Regions from separate parts of the Homo sapiens genome. Here region 2 is linked to region 1. A link means that fine-mapping ties the variant in region 1 to the expression of a gene that starts in the linked region. Tissue or cell type: Th17 cells. Region 1 holds a variant in brackets; the other region holds the start of a gene. All regions are shown on one strand. Distances are between the middles of the regions.

Region 1 (2,500 bases):
AAGCTCACCTTCCCCACCTATAAAGTCTGGGAACTGGCCAGGAATGATGAATCACACCTGTAATCCCAGCACTTTGGGAGGCCGAGGTGGGTGGATCACCTGAGGTCAGGAGTTTGAGACCAGCCAGGCCAACATGGTGAAACCCCATCTCTACTAAAAATACAAAAATAAAACAGGCGTGGTGGTGCACGCCTGTAGTCCCAGCTACCCGGGAGGCTGAGGCAGGAAAATCTCTTGAATCCGGGAGGCGGAGGTTGCAGTGAGCCAAGATGGTGCCACTGCACACTCCAGCCGGACGGCAGGTGTTCAGCCTCACAACAAGCATCCTCCTATTCTCACAATGACCAGGAGTCCCATTTAGTTTGGAACTTGGTTTTCCATTATTCACCATGGTTTTCAGACCAAACAGTGGTCTCCTGGAAATTCTAATTGGGAAATCGGCAGGCTGATTTATGGGGGAAAAAAAAAAATCCAGTTCAATTGGCATATGTGTTTTCTCCTGTGTCTTCACAGCGGCTCTGACAGGTGGTGTGACAGAAACCCCAATAGGTCCTTCTTCTCTCATGACACACCCTCAGACATCTAGCTGGCCACGTTGTGTGGAATAAAGACCAGGTTTCCAAGCTTCCCCGGCAGCCGATCTGGCCAGATGGTGAGGTCCTGGCCAGTGGGGTTTAAAGAGAGATAGTGTGTGCAACTTCAGAGAAGAAACTTTCAGAGGAAGGGACATCTTCTCTTTTTTTTCTTCCTCAGGCTGGAATGCTGCTTGTGACGGGAAAAGAATGGTAGCATTTTGGACCACATAGTGATTTGGGGCACCACAGAGCAACAAGAGAGGAGCCTGACGCCTGGACAGCAGGAGCTACCACACCAGTCACAGACTGGCTGTCTCCCAGATAAAGAAACTCCCATCTCCTTTCTTTTTTCTTTTTTTTGCTTTTGAAAATTAAATTATTTATTTTGGGATATTTGTAGATTGATATGCAGATGTAAGAAATGATATTCAGGCCAGGTACGGTGGCTCATGCCTGTAATCCCAGCACTTTGGAAGGCCAAGGCAGGGGAATTGCTCAAGCCCAGGAGTTTGAGACCAGCCTGGGTGACAGAGCAAGACCCTGTCTCTAAAAAAAAAAAAAAAAAAAAAAAA[AT/T]TTGGGACGGTCTTACTCTGTCGCTCAGGCTTGAGTGCAGTGGTGTAGTCATGGCTCACTGACTGCAGCCTGGACCTCCCGGGCTCATGTGATTCTCCCACCTCAGCCTCCTGTGTAGCTGGGACTACAAGTGTATGACCCCATGGTTGGCTATTTTTTTGTATGTTTTGTAGAGATGGGGTTTTGCCATGTTGCCCAGGCTGGCAATTTTTTTTTTTTTAAATTAGCTAGGCATAGTAGCATGCACCTGTACTCCTAGCTACTTGGGACGCTGAGGCAGGAAGATCTCTTGAGCCTAGTAGTTCAAGGTTGATTACACCCACTGCACTCCAGCCTGGGCAACAGAGCAAGAGCCTGTCTCAGAAACAACAACAACAACAACAACAACAGCACACACACACACACACAAACCCAAAACAACAACCACAAAAAACTACAAAAAAGAAACAATACAGAAATAGCTCATGCATTCTTCAGCATCAATATTCAAATTTTCCCAATGTTAACATCTTGCAAAACTATAGTACAATATTATAGCCAGGATATTGATATTGATAATAGTCAAGACACACAACCATTCCCTTGCCCCCATCTTCTTTCAGTCACTCTCAGTTTGGGTTTCTTTGAGACACACTAATATAATCCTAGAAAAATGCAGGTGAGGCCGAGCGCGGTGGCTCACGCCTGTAACCCCAACATTTTGGGAGGCTGAGGTGGGTGGATCATCTGAGGTCAGGAGTTTGAGACCAGCCTGGCCAACATGGTGCAACCCCGTCTCTACTAAAAATACAAAAAATTAGCTGGGTGTGGTGGTGTGTGCCTGTAATCCCAGCTACTCAGGAAGCCAAGGCAGGAGAAGCTTGAATCCAAGAGGTAGAGGTTGCAGTGAGCCGAGATTGTGTCACTGCACTCCAGCCTGGCCCACAGAGTGAAACTCCGTCCCAAATTTTAAAAAAATGTTTAAAAAAATGCAGGTGAGTATCATGAACTCCCATTCCACAGGTAAAGAAGCTGAAGTACAAAGAGATCAAGTGGATCACGTGGCGGATGAACACCCGAGCCAGGAGCAGAGGACCCGGTGCAACTGCCTCAACGTTACAGCCATGCCTGCCCATGCCCCACCCTCAGATCTGGGAGAAAGGAGAGGGCATAGGTGATTCCTGTTCCTTCTGGTTTGGAATTTATCTCCTATCTGATCATCAGAGATAATATAACCTCAATTTTATTATTCCACAATTTCTACTAACTGATCCCAAGAAACTGGGACCAGGGTAGGGCAGGGTTGAGTTGGAAACAGGTGGCTCTTCCAAGGAATTAAAAGAGTTCTACAAACTCATATCAATGCAATGTGC
Region 2 (2,500 bases), 28 kb after region 1:
AAATATGTACACTTTGGGAAGTAACTTTCCTCAGAGTCCTCCCAGCCTGAGGGGGCAGCCATGAGTCCAGAGGAGAGGCTTAAGAGACTAGGGGGTCAGGGGAGGGCCGAACTTGTCTAGGGAGACCCTGGGAAGTAGTGAGTGACTTCCCAGGGTCACTGGGAAGAGGACCCCACTGTCCTCATCTCAATCCCATCTACTGACCAGCCTTGATCCACTTAGTTTTCTCAGCAAATTAGGCAGAGTGATGTTAAGGCATTGCATGCTTTCTAGCATTCAGAAATCAGCAAGTTCAGAAAGTGTGATCTTGGAGTTCTAGCCAAAAAGGAGTCTGCATGTCCCTCCAACTCTTCCTACTTAGCCTTTTTAAAAACAAAAACAAATCTAGTTCTCTGAGACACAGCTTTGTTCTGACTTCTCCCTTTTCCATGTCCAGGCCCACACCCCATCTGATGTTGCTGAAAGTGCTGTCCTGACCATAGACTTAGTATCTGGCCGAGTTGAGTGGTAGGACAGGCTCAGTAGTGCACAGGGCTCCCCAGTGGTGCTGCTGAAGCTAACAGCCCTGATAACATGAGTGGCAGCCTGCTCTCTGTGTCTCAAGCACTTTCACATTTGCCATCTCACGGGGTCCTCCCAAGGACTGGTCACACCGGGAAGGCAGCTTTACTTACTGTGCTGCTGCAGAGGCAGTGAAGCTACTGGGAACTGAAATCCTCTGCCTGCCAGCTTCCATCCCACCCCTTGCACTGAGGACAGAAGGAAATAGGCCCAGGAGTAGGCAGCAAAGAATTAAAGCCATGTTAGTGAGCAGCTGATGAGGAGACAGGAGACTGCTAAGTTTAGTGGCCTGGGTCGGGGAGACTGGGGCTGATCCCCAAGTTTGCCCATGAAGGGGTTCCAACTCAGAGGCAGTGTCCTGGGGGTACAGCCCAGGCCTTGGCCCTTGCCCCTCCCCATCGGAATATTCTCCTTAAAGCCCACACTCCTTGCCCTCTGTGCCCATAAAGGAGAAGGAATCGAGAGTCTTGGACCAGAACTCGAAGTCACTGCAGCCACCAACCAAAGCCCCCTCCCCACCCAAGTCCACCAGGCCAAGCCAGCTTTTCCTATTGCCTAGGTGCTGGCGGGGGGCGGGGGAGGGGCGGGTACCTTCCCCCCAGTGCACTCGTCCAGAGGTGGGGCTTCCGAAGCTCGCCGGGACCTCCAAGTTCCTCTCCCGGGGAACTGCCCCGCCCCCTCTCTTCCCGCGGGGGGCCAGTACCTGAGGAAGCGGACACCCTGCAACCTGGCTTCCTGCCAACTCCGAGAGAGGGCGGCCCGGGCCCCCAGCACCCCCGAGCTCCCGGCGCACAGCCTCCCCAGGCGCAGCATCCCGACGTAGACAGCCATGGCTCGCTTTGCCCTGCGTCCCGGCCCGAGTAAACTTTTAAAGTGAGCCGGGGCGGGGCGGGCGCGCAGCGGGCGGGGAGGCGGGGAGGGTGGCCTCTGCCTATGGGGTGCGGCGGATTCGGTCTCCGCCGGCGGGGCGGGGCGGGGCGCGGCGGCGGCGACTTCGCGCGGGGCCACCTTCCCCTCCGACCCCGCGGCCCTCCCCCTCCCACCCTCGAAGAATAGCCCTGGTTTCCTCTGGATCCGAAGGCCCCAGCTGCAGTCCGAAACAGATCTTCCTCGCGACCATCCTCAGGGGCCTGGATGTTAGAAGCGCAAAAATTTGTTGATTTCCTAGAGGGAGAGCCAGCAGCACATCCGTGAGGGGCCAGATGGCAAGGTCAAGATCCATCCATCCCCTGCCCCCTCGGGTCACGTGCTGGCCCCGCTACTTGCGAGCCGGGGGCCAAAGGAGCAGGCGCGAAGCGTCCTTGAGGCATGCCAGCTGGAGCAGAGGGCCCCGCGGGGTTGGGGAGGCAGCCAGAACAAAGGGTGTCGCGGGTGAGCCCCCTGCGGGCCCGCTGGCGCCAGAGTCCCAGCTGAGGCCAGATGTCAGCTTCAGAAGGAACACCAGTTGTACCCCATCTCACAGGAGGCATCCTCCCATCCCTCCTCGGCGCCTCTGCCTTGACCTTCTGCACAGGGTTGGGGGCCGGACACGTAAGGTGGCCTCAGGGACTGGGACCTGTGTATTTCATCCTCCATCTGCCTGTCTTGGGGCCTGTGGCACAGTTCCCTGTGCTGCCCCAGGTGTGAATGGAAAGCAACCCTATGCCCCTCCTTAGGGTTCCTGAGGCCCAGGGGTGAGTGGGGTACTAAGACCTGGGCAGAGCTGCGGGACAGAGAAGGTGATAGCTCTGGTCCTGGCTAGGAAAAGTGGCACTGGGCACCAAAGAGTAGCACAGTTTATACCTGTTCCAGGTCCACACTGCCTCGGCCTAGCCATGACTCTTCCTCTAGAGAAGGAGCTGGAGAAGAATGGGGCAAAGGCCCTGGCAGTGTGACCTCCCCTCTCCTGACTGGAGGAGATGAAGTAAACCCTGCCAGGCAGAAGGGGTGGCTGAGAGTG

Which allele goes with the higher level. Positions count from the first base shown, and alleles are read on the strand shown. Sizes are in standard deviations (SD) of each study's normalised expression.
For the expression in Th17 cells of the gene that starts at base 1,436 in region 2, allele T in region 1 goes with a lower level than allele AT (large effect, 1.1 SD a copy in Schmiedel 2018).

Evidence for each region. PIP is the estimated chance that this variant, and not a neighbour inherited with it, causes the effect.
Region 2: ACSF2 starts here. The variant in region 1 is fine-mapped to the expression of ACSF2 in Th17 cells (Schmiedel 2018, PIP 0.95).

Annotation. Positions count from the first base shown.
Region 1 is chr17:50,452,818-50,455,317 of GRCh38, reverse strand. The region is part of intron 1 of ACSF2 (acyl-CoA synthetase family member 2); the gene reads right to left. Among named protein-coding and RNA genes, the nearest start is that of CHAD, 15 kb to the left of the region's middle. The variant AT/T (reference allele first, on the strand shown) is at 1,148.
Region 2 is chr17:50,425,154-50,427,653 of GRCh38, reverse strand. ACSF2 (acyl-CoA synthetase family member 2) reads right to left here and starts at 1,436. Exons shown (of 16, transcript NM_025149.6): 1 at 1,265-1,436. The coding sequence starts at 1,392. RefSeq lists a silencer at 1,304-1,623 and an enhancer at 1,360-1,904.